Linked DNA regions of Homo sapiens. The protein of the gene in region 1 purifies or fractionates together with the protein of each later gene. This does not show direct contact. Each region holds a gene or a part of one and is shown on either strand. Other genes may lie near its edges.

The links. The genes of interacting proteins can lie anywhere in the genome.
Region 2: the proteins of CIMAP1D (region 1) and GPHN purify together in Homo sapiens (affinity purification with mass spectrometry; 3 studies listed by BioGRID and IntAct, with this or other methods). This does not show direct contact.
Region 3: the proteins of CIMAP1D (region 1) and NMT2 purify together in Homo sapiens (affinity purification with mass spectrometry; 3 studies listed by BioGRID and IntAct, with this or other methods). This does not show direct contact.

What each region holds. Positions count from the first base shown.
Region 1 is NC_000019.10:471,979-479,551, reverse strand, and holds the start of CIMAP1D (protein CIMAP1D), read left to right. Parts: upstream 1-4,568; 5' UTR 4,569-4,804; coding exon 4,805-4,931; intron 4,932-6,920; exon of another isoform or gene 6,921-7,050; coding exon 7,051-7,158; intron 7,159-7,243; exon of another isoform or gene 7,244-7,398; intron 7,399-7,573.
Region 2 is NC_000014.9:66,511,127-66,518,152, reverse strand, and holds part of GPHN (gephyrin), read right to left. Parts: intron 1-7,026. UniProt on the Homo sapiens protein: Microtubule-associated protein involved in membrane protein-cytoskeleton interactions. It is thought to anchor the inhibitory glycine receptor (GLYR) to subsynaptic microtubules.
Region 3 is NC_000010.11:15,109,688-15,116,713, reverse strand, and holds part of NMT2 (glycylpeptide N-tetradecanoyltransferase 2), read left to right. Parts: intron 1-3,750; coding exon 3,751-3,918; intron 3,919-4,927; exon of another isoform or gene 4,928-5,186; intron 5,187-6,874; coding exon 6,875-7,012; intron 7,013-7,026.

The sequences.
Region 1 (7,573 bases):
ACGCCTGTAATCCCAGCTACGCGAGAGGCTGAGGCAGGAGGATCACTTGAACCTGGGAGACAGAGGTTGCAGTGAGCTGAGATGGCGCCACTGCACTCCAGCCTGGGCGACAAGGGTGAAACTCCATCCCCCCCCCCCCCAAAAAAAAAAAAAGAGAAAAAGAAGAAGAAAAGGGCTCCCTGCTCCTAGTGAGCAAAGGCAGCTTCCTGAGCTTCTACAGCCCTTAGTATTTATTGGGTAACAAGAGCAGAGAGGAGGAGGTAACGATTGAGCAGCTGCTTAATTGATCACAGGTTCATATTGTTACTGACGGGCTTCAATTATGCCTAATCGTAGGAAACATTTGTGCCTGGGTGGTGATGGCCCTCAGCAGCCCTTCTGCACGGCAGACGCAGTTTGTCAGTTTGCCAACATTCTGCATTTACGAGAACAGTTTGCTGTCTACTCATATAGCCCCCCAGTGGTATACTGAGTTGATCACGGCCCTCACTCTTTCGGCCTCCAACACCCCCTTCGCCCACGTTTCCTCCATAGCGCGACGTGCCCTCTGCACTCACGTAAGTTTCACTTATCTGCCTGCCTGTCTCCAAGGGAAAGGGAGGACGAGGAACTTGTGTGTTTTGTCCTCTCCCGTTTTCCCAGCACCTGAGCAGGGCCTGGCCCCAAATAAACACTGGCTGAGTTCCTAATTACGGTGAGAACAAGGGTCTCGGGAGCACCAACGGAGTCACCTCCCACCCAGGACACCCAGGCCGGGCAGTGACGTCCCTCGCCTGCAGCCGGCAGCTGGGCGGGTGGACGTAGGGCCGGCCTCCGGCCTCTCATCCGGTCCAGCCTCCCTTTTTTTCACTGTTGTGATTTAGTCTCTTCTGTCGAGCAGGCAGGATTAAAATCAGGGCTCATCTGCATGTGTGTTGAATTCATTTGCATCTCATTTGCAAGCTCTTTGCTTGGCAGTTGCGACAAGCTCTGAGCTGAAGACAGAGTTGATAGAATCTGGTGCGATCAGATCAGAAGGGGACTGGTGGCTGGAGGGGCCCCAGCTCGTTCTGGCGAGGCTGCCGGCCCTCAGCGTCCTCCCAGCAACATGCTGTCGGCTTGGCCGGCTTCCCATCCTGTCTTCCCTGTGTTAGCTTTTGGTTCCACCCCACGTAAAATGGGGAAACGGAGGCAGGTGGGGCCGAGTCCGGGCTGGAACCAAGTCTCTGGCTGTCTGCCTTTAGTGGCTGTCTGGTGTGGCCTGGACCTGGTGACCCGGATGTGAGGAGGGATGGGGTTGGGGGAACACCTTCCAGGCCCTTGTCCCCTCTGTCTCTTTAGCCGTGGGAGCCCCTGGGGTCCTGCACTTCGGCTGGTTTTGGTGAAGGAGCAGCTTTGGTCGAGGGAGGTTGGGGCCTTTCCTCCTCTCTCCCTCCTCGGCACCCATCCCTGCTGTGGCTCTGGAGTTGTGCTGCCTCTGGAAACGAGCAAATGGTGTGTCCAAGGTTGGGCAGTGACAGGGCCTGTGGGCTGGGGGCCCTCGTGACCGAGGAAGGGGCCAGCGAGGGTTGGTTTGCTGGCAGAGGCATCTCAGGTAGAGAGAGCTCAGGCAGAGGCCGAGGTGGAGACCGTCTTAGGGGCTCGAGGGAGGGAAAGCAGGTCCGGATGGTCAGAGTAGAGCGGCAAAGGGGAAGGAGCAGGACGAGAGGACAGGGGGAGGTGGAGACGAGGCCGTGCAGGGCCTGCGTGCCGTGGCGTGGCGCGTGTCTGCAGTCCCAGCTACCCGGGAGGCTGAGGCAGGAGAATGGCGTGAACCCGGGAGGCGGAGCTCGCAGTGAGCCGAGATCGTGCCACTGCACTCCAGCCTGGGCGACAGAGCGAGACTCCGTGTCAAAAATAAATAAATACACAAATAAAAATAAAAATAAAGACCAGCTTTTTTGGGATGGGGAGGAGGCGTTCTTTTTTTCTCTTTTTTTTGATTTTGACGTGGAGTCTCGCTCTGTCACTCAGGCTGGAGTGCAGCGGTGTGATCCTGGCTCAGTGGTGCAACCTCCACCTCCAGGGTTCAAGCGGGTTCAAGCGAGTCTCCTGCCTCAACCTCCTGTGTGGCTGGGATTACAGACGTGCACCACTGTGCCCAGCTAATTTTTTTATTTTTAATAGAGACGGGGTTTCACCATGGTGGCCAGGCTGGTCTCGAACTCCTGATCTCAAGTGATCCGCCCGCCTCGGCCTCCCAGAGTGCTGGGATTACAGGCATGAGCCACAGTGCCCGGCCAAGGGATTATTTCTACAGTTTTCAATTTCATGGATTTCTACTGTTATCTTTACAATCTTCCTTATACTTACTCTTGTTTTCCTAGCTTCTTAGGTGGAAACTTAGGCCTAGGCTGGAGTGCAGTGGCACAATCTTGGCTCACTGCAGCCTTGGCCTCCTTAGGCTCAAGCAATCCTCTCACCTCAGCCTCCTGAGTAGCTGGGATTACAGGCACACACCACCACTCCTGGCTGATTTTTGTATTTTTTGTAGAGATGGGGTTTCACCATGTTGCCTGGGCTGGTCTTGAACTCCTGAGCTGAAGCAATCTGCTTGCCTTGGCTTCCCAAAGTGCAGGGATTACAGGTGTGAGCCGCTGTGCCCAGCCTTCTTTTCTCATATAAAAATTTAAAGCAACCATTTTCCCTCTAAGTACTTCTTTAACTGCATCCTACACAGTTTAATATGTTGATTTTTTATAGTCATTTAGTTTGAAAATTTTCTAACTTCCTTTGTGATGACTTCTTTGATGCGTGGGTTATTCAGAAGTATGTTGTTTAACTTCTAAATATATTTGGGGGATCCTGGATATCGTATTGTTGGTGATTTCTATTTTAATTCCTTTTTCACCAGATAATATGCTCTGTAAGTTTCAAAAGTTTGATATGTACTAAGACTTGTTTTATGATCCTTTATGTAGACTATACCATTTTGATTAAAAAATTTTAAAACATGCAATACATTAAAATTACATTGCAGGGTGAAATGTATAATTGTATGGTATGTGAATTATATCAATAAAGCTGTTAAAGATGACACTGCAGGCCAGGCACGGTGGCTTACGCTTGTAATCCCAGCACTTTGGGAGGCCGAGGTGTGTGGATCACCTGAGGTCAGGAGTTTGAAACCAGCCTGGCCAACATGGAGAAACCCCATCTCTACTAAAAATACAAAAAAATTGGCTGGGCGCGGTGGCTCACACCTGTAATCCTGGCACTTTGGGAGGCTGAGGCGGTTGGATCACAAGGTCAAGAGATTGAGGCCATCCTGGCCAACGTGGTGAAACCCCGTCTCTACTAAAAATACAAAAAAATTAGCTGGACATGGTGGAGTGTGCCTGTAATTAGCTACTAAAAATACAAAAAAATTAGCTAGACGTGGTGGTGCATGCCTGTAATCCCAGCTACTCGAGAGGCTGAGGCAGGAGAATTTCTTGAACCCTGGAGGCGGAGGTTCCAGTGAGCCGAGATCGCGCCACTGCATTCCAGCCTGGGCGGGGGAGCAAGACTCTGTCTCAAAAAAAAAAAAAAAAAAAAAAAAAAAAAATTAGCCAGGCGTGGTGAAACCCCATCTCTACTAAAAAATATAAAAATTAGTCAGGCGTGGTGGCGGGTGCCTGTAATCTCAGCTACTCAGGAGGCTGAGGCAGGATAATCGCATAAACCCGGGAGGCAGAGGTTGCAGTGAGCCGAGATCGCACCAGCGCACTCCAGGCTGGGTGACAGAGTGAGACTCTGTCTCAAAAAAAAAAAAAAATTACACTGCAAAAGGCTCCAAAAAATACAGAAACAAACAAGGAAGAGACAGGAACGTGCATCTCATCTGGCAGTTTTCTGAGCCTCTTCTTGGAGCCTCACGCAGTGGTCGCCTTGAATGTATCAAAATCCATTGTGGTTTAAATCTCGGAGGCATCTGGGAGGCAGTGAGGACGGCTCTCACCTCCCCGCTGTCCTCGCCGCTGCCCCAGGGCCTCTGCACGGCTGCCTCCTCACCTGCTTTGGGACTGTTCAGTTTTACCTTCTCCGTGGGGCTCACCCACACCCACACTGCTACCCTGGGCCCCAAACCTGTCTGCGTTTTCCCTCACGTTCAGTGCCTCCTCATACACCAGACTGTGTTCACTTATCACATTTACTGACGACTTTCTCTCTCCCATCCTGAGAACATCTCCTTCTTTTCCGTCTGTTCGTGTCCAGTTCTCACCACCCCCAACAGAGGCTGGTACACAGTAGGTGCCCAGTACATGCTTTGGCAGGAATGAGTGACAGGATGAGGCAGTGAATGCTTCTTGGCTCAGAGCTGAAACTCCCAGAGTTGTGTACTTGCTGTATGACCTTGGGCTGTGCCTCAGTTTCCCCAGGTGTAGAAACGGGGCCACGCCACCCACGACCCCGCCAGGCCCTCCTGCTGCAAGGCTGTGGGTGTCATGTTTGCAGGTCTAGTTCCCTGGGGCCGGCCCTGGCCCCAGCTGCCCAGCTCTGCCGGCTCCCGGGAGACGCACTCTGCTGACACCGGACTCTTTCCTGGACCATCCAGCCGCCTGGCCGACACTCGATCCCGGCCCCACTTCCAGGCCAGTGTCCGGCCGACCAGCCTGCCTTGGGCCAGGGCCCCACGACTCCCTGCTGCGGGACAAGAGGCCGTCTGTGCGGCTGTGGTCGTGGGAGGGTGTGGTGAGGCCGTGAAGGTGGGGACGGTGCCTGGGCCTGTGGCCGCCAGAGCTGCTGCGGCTCAGAAGGTAGCACCAGGCCCCGTGGGTGCTGTGGGGGCCATCGCCTGCCCACCATGGGGACCCTCAGCTGCGACTCCACCCCACGGCTGGCCACAGCCCCCCTTGGCCGGCGAGTGACGGAGGGCCAGATTCCGGAGACCGGCCTGAGGAAGTCCTGTGGGACGGCCACCCTGGAGAACGGTGCGTGCCAGCCGTGGGGGATGGGTGGGACCTTTTCCTGCTCCACTCCCCATACTTCTGGGGCTTCTGGAATGTTCTGGGAGCCCAGCAGGAGGCAGGAGTTTCAGGCAAGTCCTTGCCCTTCCCCAGACCTCAGTTTTCCTTCCGGCAGGATGGGTGTGGACACGGGGTTGCCGTGAGCCCCGAGTATGTGTCTGTCCAACGGAAGCTGCGTGCTTTGCCAGCCGGGTCCCCTTCCAGGGGCTGTGGGTACAGCAGTGGGCAAAGCCACAGCGATCATGCGGGAGACGCGGGGAGGAGGGAATATTTCCAGCGTGGCCCTCAGGGACGGGCGCCCTAGACAACGTGGGGCAGGGCGAGGGGCGCGTGTGCGGAGGCGGCTCTGCTGGGAGCCACATCAGCTGCTGGCCTCGGTGAGGGCCCAGGACGGGCCGCAGTTTCCTCACCCACAATTAGCGGCTGGAGTCAGGCCCCAAGCCAGGTCCTCGGGCTGGTTCTGTGGTCTCTCCTGATCCCTGTGGCATCGAGATTCTGCAGAAGCCACAACACATGGCGTCTGTGACCGTGTATCTCTGGGAGGCTCAGGCCTCAGTCTCCCCATCTGTGATCGTGTATCTCTGCCTGGGCCTCAGTTTCCCCATCTGTGACCGTGTATCTCTGCCTGGGCCTCAGTTTCCCCATCTGTGACCGTGTATCTCTGCCTGGGCCTCAGTTTCCCCATCTGTGACCGTGTATCTCTGCCTGGGCCTCAGTCTCCCCATCTGTGACCGTGTATCTCTGCCTGGCCCTCAGTTTCCCCATCTGTGACCGTGTATCTCTGGGAGGCTCAGGCCTCAGTCTCCCCATCTGTGATCGTGTATCTCTGCCTGGGCCTCAGTCTCCCCATCTGTGATCGTGTATCTCTGCCTGGGCCTCAGTTTCCCCATCTGTGACCATGTATCTCTGCCTGGGCCTCAGTCTCCCCATCTGTGACCGTGTATCTCTGGGAGGCTCAGGCCTCAGTCTCCCCATCTGTGACTGTGTATCTCTGCCTGGGCCTCAGTTTCCCGATCTGTGACCGTGTATCTCTGCCTGGGCCTCAGTCTCCCCATCTGTGACCGTGTTTCTCTGCCTGGCCCTCAGTTTCCCCATCTGTGACCGTGTATCTCTGGGAGGCTCAGGCCTCAGTCTCCCCATCTGTGATCGTGTATCTCTGCCTGGGCCTCAGTTTCCCCACCTGTGACCGTGTATCTCTGCCTGGGCCTCAGTTTCCCCATCTGTGACCATGTATCTCTGCCTGGGCCTCAGTCTCCCCATCTGTGACCATGTATCTCTGCCTAGGCCTCAGTTTCCCCATCTGTGACCGTGTATCTCTGGGAGGCTCAGGCCTCAGTCTCCCCATCTGTGACCATGTATCTCTGCCTAGGCCTCAGTCTCCCCATCTGTGACCGTGTATCTCTGGGAGGCTCAGGCCTCAGTCTCCCCATCTGTGACCGTGTATCTCTGGGAGGCTCAGGCCTCAGTTTCCCGATCTGTGACCGTGTATCTCTGCCTGGGCCTCAGTCTCCCCATCTGTGACCGTGTATCTCTGCCTGGGCCTCAGTTTCCCCATCTGTGACCATGTATCTCTGCCTGGGCCTCAGTTTCCCCATCTGTGACCATGTATCTCTGCCTGGGCCTCAGTCTCCCCATCTGTGACCATGTATCTCTGCCTAGGCCTCAGTTTCCCCATCTGTGACCGTGTATCTCTGCCTGGGCCTCAGTTTCCCCATCTGTGACCGTGTATCTCTGCCTGGGCCTCAGTCTCCCCATCTGTGACCGTGTATCTCTGGGAGGCTCAGGCCTCAGTTTCCCCACCTGTGACCGTGTATCTCTGGGAGGCTCAGGCCCCAGTCTCCCTGTCTGTGCCCCAGGGTGAGGGGGGCTGCTGTCCCCAGCTTTTCCTCTGTGATTCATGTCTGACTCACAATGCAGGCATCACATTTTGTCCCCGACGGGCAGCAGCCTCTTGCTCCCCGGGGCCCCCAATCCTCACCATGGAGGGAGAGGGGAACCCAGGCTAAGGCTCAGGAGCTGGGTCCAGGGCTCCTTCTTCGGGGAATCTGGGCCCAGGAGGTGACCTGAGGGCTTTGGGCTGCAGGCTCGGGGCCAGGCTTGTATGTCCTGCCGTCCACCGTGGGCTTCATCAACCACGACTGCACCAGGGTGGCCAGTCCCGCCTACTCGCTCGTCCGGAGGCCCAGTGAGGGTAAGGCGGGCGAGTGGGCGGCTGGAGGCTTCCCTGATCCTCCAATCTCCCCCCAGGAGCACTGATGGGTCTCCTTACCCCTTAGATCCAGGCCCCCAGTTAGTGCGGCAGGAAGCAGGCAGGGCTGGGCTGTACAACCTGCTCCACCTCCTACTTACTGTGAGACCTCAGGCAAGCTGCTGTCCCTCTCTGTTTTTTCATTGATAATGAGAATGGAAGGAGAAAGAGCGCAGTAAGGAGGTGAGTACCTGTACCTGCCTTACCGTGTTTGCAATTCCTTGCTGCCTGGACTCAGGCAAATTGCTTAAGTGCTTTGCAACTCAGTTTCTGTTAAAAGTTAACAATAGCAGGCCGGTGCGGTGGCTCACGCCTGAAATCCCAGCACTTAAGGAGGCTGAGGCAGGCGGATCACGAG
Region 2 (7,026 bases), on another chromosome or scaffold:
GGTTTTTTTTGTTTTGTTTTTTTCTGGGTTATTTATTTATTTATTTATTTATTTATTTGGCTGTTAAGATGTTTGAGTTTCTTGTATATCCTAGATATTAATCCCCCGTCAGATGAACAGTTTGCAAATATTTTCTCCCATTCTATAGGCTGCCTTTCATTCTGTTGGTTATTTCCTTTGCTGTATAAAAGCTTTTTAGTTTACTATAATCCACTTGTTTATTTTTGCTTTTTTTGCCTGTGCTTTTGAGGTCTTATTTATAAAATTTTTTCCCAGACCAATGTCCTGAAACATTTCCCCTATGTTTTCTTCTAGCAGTTCCATAGTTTCCTGTCTTACATGTAGGTCTTTGATTCATTTTGAGTTAATTTTTGTACAGAATAAGAGGTGGGGCTCTAGTTTCATTCTTCTGCATATGGATATCCTTTTTCCCAGAAACATTTCTTGAAGATACTGTCCTTTCATCAGCAAATGTTCCTGGGACCTTTCTCAAAACTCAGTTGGCTGTAGATATGAGGATTAATTTCTGGGTTCTCGATTCTGTTCCTTTGGTCTATGTGTCTGTTTTTACACCAGTACCATGCTGTTTTGGTTACTATCACTCTGTAGTATATTTTAAAGTCTGATAGTATGATGTCTCCAGCTTTGTCCTTTTTGTTCAGGATTGCTTTGGCTATTCCAGGTCCTTTATGGTTCCATACAAATTTTAACTTTTTTTTCCCTATTTCTGTGAAGAATGTCATTGGTATAGAATGTCATTGATAGGACTGCATTGAATCTGTAGATTGCTTTGGGTAGTGCCCACTTGCAGTTTAATCCAAACGTAACTTCTACAATGTGGATGTTAATTTTATGAAAGCATAATTTTTAAAGTTTAGACTATAATCAAAATGTTCTGTATAGACTCTTAGGTGAAAGTGAAGAGGGGGGCACCACCGTGTAAATGTTCCTTCATCTTTTTACATCTGAAAATAGTATTTTTACTCTATTCAGTTTCTTCTTTTTTTTTTTTTTTTTTTTTTTTTTGAGATGGAGTCTCACTGTGTGGCCAGGCTGGAGTACAGTGGCACAGTCTTGGCTCACTACAATCTCTGCCTCAGGGGTTCAAGTGATTCTCCTGCCTCACTCCCGAGTAGCTGGGATTACAGGCACACACCACCATGCCTGCCTAATTTTCATATTTTTAGTAGAGGTGGGGTTTCACCATGTTGGCCAGGATGGTCTCAATCTCCTGACTTCGTGATCTGCCCGCCTCAGCCTCCCAAAGTGCTGGGATTACAGGCGTGAGCCCCTGTGCCTGGCTCAGTTTCTTATTTATAAGATATCCAACAGTTCTTAACCATTAATTAGACTTTAAAGATTATTAATTTCAAGTGCACATTAATGTGTTTTTTAAAAGAACAAGAAATAATTAAAAGAAACATTTCATTTTTACTTAGCATTCAAATTGCACTTAATCTCTTTCACTCATAGAGTGGATTTTTATTAACATTTACAGCATCAGGCAGACACATTTAGCCATGATCCTGAAATCGTGAAGTACTATACAAAGAAATAAAGCTATTTATTATAGTAATATCCACTCATTTTCTGATGCCCTGAACCCAAAAGTGAAAATATGTGCCTTTAGACCCTCACTTCAAATCTAACTGGATGTAATATCACAAATAATTCTTAGCAAGTTTATGTGGTTCCCAAGGATATAGTAGATTAGAAGGGCAGGGCAGGAAGAGGAAGGGCAAGTGGGTAAAACCTGAAAAGCATATACGTTATGGAAACATACTATCATGTCACAGTAACAGATATTCAGAATAGAATGTAGAAATATAATTGCTGGCCAGGCACGGTGGCTCACATCTGTAATCCCAGCACTTTGGGAGGCTAAGGCAGGTAGATCACTTGAGGTCAGGAGTCCAAAACCAGCCTGGCCAACATGGTAAAACTCTGTCTCTACTAAAAATACAAAAAAAAAAAAAAAATTAGCCAGGCATGGTGGCAGGCGCCTGTAATCCCAGCTACTCGGGAGGCTGAGGCAGGAGAATCACTTGAACCCGGGAGGCAGAGGTTGCAGCAAGCTGAGATCGCACCACTGCATTCCAGCCTGGGCGACAGAGTGAGTCCGTCTCAAAAAAAAAAAAATGTGTATCAAAAAAATGGCTTGACATAAAAACAGTTTTGGTGCTTGTACTTGTTATCTACTTAAAAAATAAAATATAAAAGCACCTTATTCCTTGAAACATAAATGAAGCATGAATGTGTCAATATTCAACTTGACTGAATAATGTTTTCACAGTAGTGCTAGAATATATGCTTCAAGACAAGAAAGATTGAACTGTCTTAATCACTATTGTATCCTTCACTTAGCACAGGGCCTTGGTACATAGTAGGTGTTGAATACTGAATACATTATTTCATTTCTCACATTAACCCATCAAGGTAAACACACTTACCCCCATTTAAAGGTAAGGAAACTGTGGTAAAATGTGCTTATCTTGAAAGTGGGAGAAGAGGCATAACTTTTGACTCCTAACAGTGTTATTTTGATCACCAGAATCAACATTAACAGCATTTTCAGAATTTTTTTACCTATAATTTCAAATTTTTAGTTTTTAGATATCAAATTTCATTAGTCTAAAATTATCCTCACACAAACAACACCCAACTAAAACAATATACAAAATTTAATGCTATAAAACATCTCAAACACACATCGTTATAAATATCATCCTATTACCAGAAAAACATACCTTTTAAAAACTAATCAACTTCACTCCATCTACCCTAAACTATCCTTTTAGTAATAATAGCCAAGTTCTGGTTTACCTAAATGTTTCTTAAGGTACTATATAAATTTTACACCACCCAATTTTTTTATTAAACACCTTCTATCCAATTACTTCATTAACAGATGCTATGACAAAAGGGCACAAAAGAAGTAAAGAACATAACCATATATCTCAAGAACTTTAAAATCTACTTTGAATAAGACATGTATACACGAAACTGTGGCAAGTTGCTCCCAAAGCAACATACAAAGAGGAAGGAACCAAAAATAACTGAGTATCTCATCTGAAAATGCTAGGCATTTTCATATGCGTTACCTCTATTAGTTCTGAAAACTTTGTAAAGTAGATATTGCCATCTTCATTTCGGAGAAGAAAACTGAAATTCAGAGAGGTGAAATGACTTCCCAAAATAAAGGGCAAATGAGGGTCTGAAGTCCAAGTCTATCTGACTCCAAAGTTCTATCCTTTTTAAGCTACACCATGCAGCCTCCCACATATAGATTACAGGGTATAGACAACATTTATAAACGTTGTAAGGAAAACAAAGAAAGACATCATTGAAGAGAATAATTCCTAGGAAATATTTTATTGACAAAGTCAGTCCTGAGCTGTGTCTGAAACCTAAGTGTAAGATTGCTAATAACAGAAAGATTAATGTCACAAAAATTTCTAAATAAAAAATCTAAATATTTTCCTTCTTTGATCATTATTCTATTTCTTATTCTCTTGCATTTTTATGTATAACCTACCCTCCCCTATAATCATTCCCATTATAAAGACAGAAAAAAATTAACTAGGTCTAATATCCTATATTTCTCTTTCCTGCTGGTCAGAATGCTAAAAGATAGAAACATATACTGCCATGAGAGCCTTGAAGTGATCTTAGAGAGTGATTTCTTCATTTTAGTGGTAAGAAAAGCTGAGAGAGGGTTACACAATATACTGAAGGTTACAAAACTTTACTAGCCAGAATAGTATGAGAACATAGTTCTTACAGTGTTCTTTCTATGATTCAGTGCTCCTTAAATTTTTTGCCATGAAGTGTCAATAACGCAGAAGAATGACGAGATCTGGAGCTCACTTGAAATATAATGGGCTCACTTGAAATTTCTTTGAAGTTTCTAATTTCATCTTAAAGCCTCATATGAATTCTATACTTTGTGCCTAATTTACTTATGCTTATCTTAATATTAAAGTTATTTAAATTAATACCATCAAGTAAAATTGGTACTTAAAAAATTATTATGTTTGTTCCTGTGGCTTAGATTCTAAGCCTTATAGGTATCCCTTGACACAATGTCATGTACTCCAGTTTGAGAAGAATGCCCCAAATTATGGTGACAATTCCTTCATCATATTTCATTTCCTTGCTGCTTTATTTTTCAAATTAAGAATTCTTTTTAAAGCATGGTAAATTTAATTACACTCTTTCGAAATGTATAAATACTGACAAAGCTACTGTTAAAATTGTTGGGGTTGTTTAAACACAAAATTTTCAAGAAGCTCTACTTAGTTAAAATTAATTTATTAAAAACAATTTAGTTTATAAATTCATTAAAGAACCTGGATAGAACTTCTACCTAGCAATACTTCATTAAACATTTCCTTTTTGAGAGGTCACTCAAAAAAACTTTTTAATGAAAGTGAGATTAGATGCCATTCATATTGACTACAGTCCCAATTACTTTTAAGTAGGTTAAACAATCTTTTCTTCTTCCTTGGTATTTATCTTCTCTGCCCAGATGTGAAGGAAGAAATCCTTTGTGGTTTCACTACTTTCTTTTTCAGGATCTTTTTTTAATACCTTTCAAATTCCAAATATGCTTCATTATTCTTCAATCCTATTTACAGAAACAGAGTAATAGATTTTATCTATTTTACTGATTGTTTTTAAAAACACCCTGTTCAACTTAGCCAGGAATCTATCACTAGCAAGATTAAAAATAGACTCTTATTCGTCACTTCCTCCCTAAAAACATACTATTGACTTTCCACTATATGCCTGCTTGAAGTCAAATAGTTGTATGTGTTTTTAATGTATTTAAAACTCTTATTGTATAGCAACTAATACTTTTTCAAGTCCTTGGCCAGTGATGATAGTATTAAGTATATTCACTTTGAAGTCAAATTGTCACATGTGTTTTTAATATAGTTAAAATTCTTATTGTATAGCAACTAATACTTTTTCAAGTCTTTGACCAATGATAATAGTACTAAGTATATTCATTAGAAATTAATTTAACATTTTCCTACTTTGCCTAAACATTTAATTCTCTAATACATTGCTTTCAACAAAAAATTCACAAAATAACAATCTATTTCAAGAAATAGGATTCCTTTCAAGTCATATAGATCAATATTAAAAACACATATTAAAAAAACAGCTAAGTTAGGCAGAACATACAGTTCCACTTAGTAGGATTTAATAGTAATTTGCCTACTTAATGACATCTATTCTCAAAACAGATATAATATGTATATATCCTTATCAATAAATGGGCTTTTCAGAAAATAATATTGACACATAATATACCAGAACAGGTTTCAAGAATGTAAAAAAGTAAATGCTTAAACAATTGCAGAGTTATGACAGTAGCATCTGCTTGGCTCAAGCTTGTTTTTTTAATACTTTGAATGACTTCATTTATGAATAACTGAAATACTCCCTACCTGTTACTGTAATATTTTGATGTTCTCATTTACAATTAGTCTTTTAACTAATCTCTAGTACCTAGTCTTATATTTGTTCCAGTATCTCTTACTGATTTCAAATCAACAGGTTAGTGCAATTAAAATGTATATTACTACAGCAAAAATATGATTTTTAAAAATGCCCTTTCCCAAAAATTTGTACCTTTTTCTCATTCATGCCCCTATTAGTGACAATTTAGGTAATGGATTATCATCTTCAGCTAAGTACCTTGGTATCAAACATTAGCTGTAGCGAACTAATACGATATTCAGTAGCCAATGGAATAATCTATATGATTCTACATTCTATACATACATGTAGTCATTATTTTCCTAGTAATGTTTCTGTAGAGCTTTTACAGGTAAAACTAGTATGCTGCTTTGATAAACAGCTTCTTTCAAAATAGAAAAAAGTATGTGAAGAGTGACATATTCCAGATATAGTGAGCCTGCTATGTAACTGGTAAGATTGACTTCAAGTATAATCACTACTAAAGCTGTTAGAAAAAAATTCTACATCTGCACCACATCCTGTTTCTAGTTTTCAAGTAGCAGATACTTGTTTATTTGCTTCATGTTACTCATTACCATATTACCTCTAGTCTCTTCTATAAATAGTAATACAAGTAGACAACTAATTAGACACAGAAATATTTCAAACTAGACCTTAGGTCACCAAACACCATGTGACTTTCATTTCTGTCAAGTCAACATAAGACAGTTTCGAACAAAGTTATTGTTGTTAGAGATGGACAATAATATTCAACATAAAATGTTTCCACATACAGCCTATTTTATATACATATATGTTCTCATTTTCCTGATTTAAAAAAAAGTATAATTAGAATATCCATGTTACATTAATTATCATAATCTCATTTTCAAGTGCTTAATAATTCAAAATAATGAAGCAAAAAAATGCTTCTGCTAAATATTTCCCTTTCTACCATTATTCTTTCATAAACCTAATACAATTAATTTATTTAATGAGAAGTCTCAACAGACTATGTACTAAATTTGCCAAATTTACAACTGAAATGAAGATAACGAAAACATCTAATGGATGAAAAGTTTCAAAGAACAAATATCTTTCAACAGGTAATAAAAAATGTCACAACGTCAATTAAAAACTTTAGAAATGACAATATGACTTCACAAAATACTAAGTAACATATTGTAAAATGTGTGTGTGGGTAGATCACACTTTCCACTATCTTTGTAAAATAGATATAGATAAAATACTTAAAATTAGTATTACGAAGCATGCCAAGGAGATTTTCTAAAAGAGACCCTCCACCTTTTAAGAGCCACAAATAATAATTTACAAAAACCACAGTTCAACTCAACTTTCTTAAGTATGAAATCACAATACTTCAGTTCAGTAAAGAATAATTCTACATAGTAAAACTGCAAAACCTCAAGTTCTAGAATACACAAAATTGTACAGCACAGCTTCATTTTTGTAAGTTCTTTCCCCCAAATCATATGGTATATCAGGCAAGACCACAGAAATTAAGCTGTTGATAATGAAACCCACTAGTTACAGACT
Region 3 (7,026 bases), on another chromosome or scaffold:
TGGTGATTCGTGTCTTCTCTTTCTTTGTTTTTGTCCATATTGGTAGACTTGTATCATTTTATTGATTTGTTTCCCAGAGAACCAGACTTTTGTTGGATATTCCCTGTTGTCTTCCTGTTTTCAGTGTCATTGATTTCTACCCTCGTGTTTATTGTTTCCTTCTGTCTGCTTGCTTTGGGTTTATTTTGCTCTTCTTTTCTAGTTCCTTGAGGGAAGAACTTACTGACTTGAGACCTTTCCCTGTTACTAGTAAGCATTTAGTTCTATCAGTTTCCCTCTCTGCACTGCTTTAGCTATTTCTGACGTATTTTGGTATGTTGTATCTTCGTTGTCATTCACGTCTATGTATTTTTTGGTTTCGTTTGAGGCTTCCTCTTTAGCCCACCCCTACTTAGAATTGTGCTGTTCAATTTTGCTGTGTTTAGAGATTTTCTGTTGTCTCCCTATTACAGATTTCTAGTTTGATTCAATTATGGTTAAAGAACACACACTGTATGGTTTTGATTATTTTAAGGCTCTTGAGGTTTGTTTTATTACTCGGGATATGGACTGTCTTGATGGATATTCCATGGGTGCATGAAACGTGTATACCACTACGGTTGTGTGGAGTGTTCTTTGTATGGCAATTGCATCATGTTGATTAATTGAGTTATTCAGCTCTTCTGTTTCCATGCTGATTTTCTGTCTAGCAGTTCTATCACTTGATGAGAGGGGCATGGAAGTCCCCAGCTGTAATTGTGGATTTGTCTATTTCTCCTTCCAACACTGTCAGTTTTTCTTGATTTCTTCTGGGCCTCTTGTTTGATACTCACATGTATATTAGGGTCTTTGTGTCTCCCTAGTGGATTGATCTTTTTATCATAATGTAATACCTCTCTTTCTAATAATTTTCCTTGCTCTGGAGTATACTTTATTGTATATTACTGTGACCAGACCTGCTTTTAAAAATTGTTTGGACTTTTTCCATCCTTTTACTTTCAAACTATTGATGTTATTGAATTTGAAGTGAGTTTCTTGGAAACAGCCTATAGCTGGGTCATGTTTCTTTACCCACACTACTGATGTTTCTTTTGATTGGTGTATTTAGACCACTTACATAAAAGGTGATTATTGGTATGGTAGAGCTTAAGTCTACCATTTGATTATTTGGTTTCTTTATGTTTCTTCTGGTTCTTGTTCCTCTGTTTCTTTTTTCTTGCCTTGCTGTGGATTACTTGAATATATTTTAGGATACTGTTTTATTTATAGTACCTTTGGGTGTATTTGTATAGTTTTTATGATGGTTGATGTGAGTATTACAATATATATATGTGACTTATAGTCGATTGGTAACAACATTTATTACTTTGAGTCACCTTACTTTTATTTAGGTCACTTTACCTTTTTCATTTTTAAATATTGTTGTCTTAAATATCAGACAGTATTATGATTTTTGTTTTAATCATCAAGTATGATTTGTAACACTGATTAATAATGATGCTTGAGGAGAAGCATAATTTATTATATGTAGCCCAAATTTCTACTCTATTATTCTTCCCTCCTTCCTGATGCTTCAAGATTCCTTCTTTTATTATTTCCTTTCTATTTGAAGAAATTCCTTTAGCCAGTCTCAGGGTATGTCTGCTAGTGACACATTCTTTTGGTTTCCATTTGTGTGAGACTACCTCTGTTTTTAGATTTAGTTTCCCAATTTTTTTTTTTAATTTTTTTTGGAGACAGTGTCTTGCTCTGTCACCCAGGCTGGAGTACAATGGTGCAATCTCTGCTCACTGCAACCTCCGCCTCTTGGGTTCAAGCAATTCTTGTGCTCAGCCTCCTGTGTAGCTGGAACTACAGGCGCATGCCACCACACCCTGCTAATGTTTTGTATTTTAGTAGAGACGGGGTTTCACCACGTTGGCCAGGCTGGTCTCGAACTTCTGAGCTCAGAAAATCCACCCACTTTGGCCTCCCCAAGTGCTGAGATTACAGGCATGAGCCACCATGCCCAGCCCTAGTTTGCTAATATTTTACTTAGGATCTTCTATACTCACTACTGAGGTTGGCCATTAATTTCCCCTTCTTACCCTGTCCTTGTCCTGTCTTGATACCAAAGTTAGAATGAGCTGAAGAGCTTGTCCTCTCTTTTCTCTGGAACAGTGTATGTAATAATAGGGATTACTTGTTCCTTGAAAGTTGTTAGAAGTTGCTTATAAGCCATCTAGACATGGTGCCATGGTGGGTTTTGTTGTGAGCGGGGTTTTTTTGTTTTGTTTTGTTTTGTTTTGTTTTTTATCAGTCTTTACAATTGATTGGGTGTGAGGGACAATGGAAAGATCATCCCACTCTTCCCCAACAGTTGGTGATTCTCTGGTCATTTTAACAGCAAGAGAGGAAACAGTAATTTTACCAGCAATATGAATGTGAAGAAGTAGTTTTCTGAAAGCAGATGATGAAAATGGGGTGGGGAACCTAATCAGGTTCTGCAGGTGCCTGCAGTAATTCAGCGTATGAGATGGATATGAGAAATTCTTAGAAGAATCTAAAATCCTTATTAAACCTGAAGGTTGAATTCATCTCCAATACTGAGCTGCTAATATAGAGCAGTAGGGAATCACTGTAGATTAACCCCTTTAGTTTCTTGCTGGCTGAAGAAAGGTCTAATGACTCGGAAGCCTTTGAAAACCAAAGCATACATCCTTCTGGAATTTCCTTTTCTGCTGAAAGAAATACTAGCAGTGGCATGTGTGTGGTCCAGCCTCTTCAGCCGCACGATTCAAACACATCATATTCTAAAAGTCAGCAAGGCCACCACAGCTAATTACAACAACCCGAACAATACTGGCTAATTTCTTGTATTGGAAGCTTTGCCAGTGATGATGAAATGAATGTCATCCATTGTATCCCTTATTTTTGATAGCTGCAAAATTCTCCAGTTGTTCACATGTGTATATTTTGGTGCAGTAGTAAGACCTTTCACAAGCTTGCGAACTCTTCCAAACAGCTTCCAGACTCTACCCAACCTTACTTAGGCCTGATATAATTCTTTCTGTGTGCTAAGACAGTGTGAGATAGTACACAGTATCTTTTAGTTGGAGAAGGCAGCCCTCTAATCCTTAAAGCTTTTATTTCTGCAAAAACAATGAATCTGCTTTTATCACTGTTCCCTTAGTCTAAAGAATTGACTCATTTGTCAGCCTGAGGGAAGCTTTCCTTTTAGGACATTCTGCTTCTATCTTTCTTTCTTTTTTTTTTTTTTTTTTTTTTTTTTGAGTCTCATCCTGTCGCCCAGGCTGGAGTGCAGTGACACAATCTTGGCTCACTGCAACCTCCGCCTCTGGGGTTCAAGCGATTCTCCAGCCTCAGCCTCCCAAGTAGCTGGGATTACAGGTGTGCGCCACCACACCTGGCTAAGTTTTCATATCTTTAGTAGAGATGGGGTTTCACCATGTTGGTCAGGCTGGTCTCGAACTCCTGACCTCATGATCCACACGCCTCATCCTCCCAAAGTGCTGGGATTACAGGCATGACATTCTGCTTCCTAAGAACTTTGTGCAAATCACCAATGGGCACTTAGGCTGAAGTCCCAACTCCAGGCCCTTCTTGGCCTCTACACAGCACAATATAAGGGGCCCCAAATTGGACTGCCGAGAAAGAAGTGTGACTTACTGCTTTTCGTTCTCTGGGGCAAGGGAGAGAACAGAGTTAGTGGAAATGCACGTATGCAGTTGGTTCAAGGAGATCTCTGTCTGACAGCACTTTTGCTCCTAGAGCCCCAACGGTAAACTGACTGATTTCCTGAGCTTCTATACGCTCCCCTCCACGGTGATGCACCACCCTGCTCACAAGAGCCTCAAAGCCGCCTACTCATTCTACAACATCCACACAGAGACGCCCCTGCTGGACCTCATGAGCGACGCGCTCATCCTGGCTAAATCGGTAAGCCACTCCTTCCTGTTCACGCCGTTTGGTTCTCCAAATGTCTGTGCCAAACTATAGAAGACATCTTACTGTGTTTTCTTCCACACAGGTGGAATTTATGCGAGACTTTAAAAAAACTATTGATCATCAGTCAAAGGAAGAATTTTGATAAGAGTTTCTTTTGAAACTTTAGAGGCTATTTTCATCATTAATTTTATGGCAGTTTAACAAAAAAGACAAAATGTACAAATTATAAATGTTTAATCCTTATATAAGAATATATAAGGCTGGGCATGGTGGCTCAGGCTTGTAATCCCAACACTTTGGGAGGCCGAGATGGGTGGATCACCTGAGGTTAGGAGTTTAAGACCAGCCTGGTTAATATGGTGAAACCTCGTCTCTACTAAAAATACAAAAGTTAGCCAGGCTTCGTGGTGTGTGCCTGTAATCCCAGCTACTCGGGAGGCTGAGGCAGGAGAATTGCTTGAACCTGGGAGGCAGAGGTTGCAATGGAGCTGAGATTGCACCACTGCACTCCAGCCTGGGTGACAGAAACTGTCTCAAAAAAAAAAAAAAAAAAAAAAAAAAAAAAAAAAATATATATATATATATATATATATATATATATATATATATATAAAGCCCATATCTTAGGAAGTAATATAAGGAAAATATTAATACATGAGTGAATATTTTTGTTGAGTGAATAACTAGCAGCAATTTTTTTATTCAACCAAATAGTCTCTGAATTTTAAAATTAAAGGAATGAAATTCAAAATTTAATTGTAGCCAGTCTACATGGTGAAACCCTGTCTCTACTAAAAATACAAAAATTAGCAGGGTGTGATAGCACACACCTGTAATCCCAGCTACTCGGGAGGCTGAGGCAAGAGGATTACTTGAACCTGGGAGTTGGCGGTTGCAGTGAGCCGAGATTGCACCATTGCATTCCAGCCTGGGCCACAGAGTGAGACCCTGTCTCAAATTAATTAATTAATTAAAATAAAATAAAATAAAAATCTCTTACCTGTGCCTTTGGATCCCCAAGTCAACATCATCCTCAGATTGTCTGCTTTTTTTCAACACTTCCCAAATATGGCCAGTAATTAGTTATTTAAGGTAAAAACCCTGAGAAATAAAAATAAAAAGTGCTTCTTCTATATCACATTTTGCATAGTATTATTGTCTGACATTTTAAAGAAATTTAATTTTTTACCATTAAAATTTTACATAAATATATTTCCCATTATCAGCCCAAAGCAAACATACTATTTTTTTATACTTTTTTTTTTTTTTTTTTTTTTGAGATGAGTCTTGCTGTGTTACCCAGGCTGGAGTGCAGTGGCACAGTCTCGGCTCACTGCAACCTCTGCTTCCCATGTTCAAGTGATTCTCTTGTCTCAGCCTCCAGAGTAGCTGGGACTATAGGTGTGTGCCACCACACCTGGCTAATTTTTGTATTTTTAGTAGAGACAGGGTTTCATCATATTGACCCGGCTGGTCTCGAACTCCTGACCTCAGGTGATCCACCTGCTGCGGCCTCCCAAAGTGCGGGGATTACAGGCGTGAGCCACCACGCCCGGCCTGCATACTATTTAAAGTCTTTACAACTTTGGTCCCTGGGCAATAGCTTCAGCCAAGGTAGGACTTAGAAAGGCTAATAATTAATAATCCTGGAGATGAAACCATCTTGACAACTGTTCCCTTCTAAAACAAGAACGAGGCTGGGTGCAGTGGCTCATGCCTGTAATCCCAGCACTTTGGAAGGCCAAGGCAGGTGGATCACTTGAGGTCGGAGTTCAAGACCAGCCTGGCCAACACGGTGAAACCCGGTCTCTACTAAAAATACAAAGAAATTAGCTGGGCATGGAGGTGCACACCTGTAATGCCAGCTACTAGGAAGTTTGAGGCAGGAGAATTGCTTAAATCTGGGAGGTGGAGGTTGCAGTGAGCCGACATCATGCCACTGTATTCCAGCCTGGATGACAGAGTGAGACTCCATCTCAAAAAAATTTAAAAATAAATAAATAAAACATAAATAAAATATTTTCTGAAATCTTCATAAGTAATTTTATGCCAGTGACAGCCATCATACTACATTTTTAACATTTTTGGGATTCAGCGTTTCTGAATTTTCATGCTGACTTCATTGGATTCACTATAGTTTGTTTGTTTTTTGAGACAGGCGCTCACTCTGTTGCTCAGGTTTAAGTGCACTGGCACAATCACAGCTCACTGCAGCCTCGACCTCTTCGGCTTATGCAATCCTGCCTCAGCCTCCTGTGTAGCTGGGTCCACAGGCACACACCACCATGCCGAGTCAATCTTTTTATTTTTGTAGAGACAATGTCCTGTACCTACACCTACACCTATACCTACAGCCTATGCCCAGGCTGGTTTCAAATTCCTGGGCTCCAGTGAGCCTCCCACCTTGGCCTCCCAAAGTGCTGGGATTACAGGCGTGAGCCACCACATCCAGCCACACTGCTAGTTTTATAAGACAATTTTCAACTGAATTCTTCCTCTTTTTAAAGAAAGAAAAAAAAAAAGTCTCACTCTGTCGCTCAGGCTGGAGTGCCGTGGCACAATCTCGGCTCACTGCCACCTCTACCTCCCAGGCTCAAGCAGTTCTCCTGCCTCAGCCTCCTGAGTAGCTGGGACTGCAGGTGTGCGCCACCACATCTGGCTTATTTTTGTTATTTTTAGTAGAGATGGGGTTTCGCCATGTTGGTCAGGCTGGTCTCGAACTCCTGACCTCAAGTGATCCACCCACCTCAGCCTACCAAAGTGCTGGGATTATAGGCATGAGCCACAGCATCCGGCCCTGAATTCTTAACCTATGCTATATATCACGGACGTTAAATCCTATTAGAAATGCATATTCGAGCTATTAGTAGAATTGTTAAACTGAGATATGTAATACAGAAAACACTAGTCCTTTGTTTTAAATTTTAAATCTTTTTTAAATTGGCAGAAAGGATTTGATGTATTCAATGCACTGGATTTGATGGAAAATAAGACATTCTTGGAAAAACTCAAGTTTGGTATAGGAGATGGCAATTTGCAGTATTACCTGTACAATTGGAGGTGTCCAGGTACAGATTCTGAAAAGGTAAGTGAAATGGA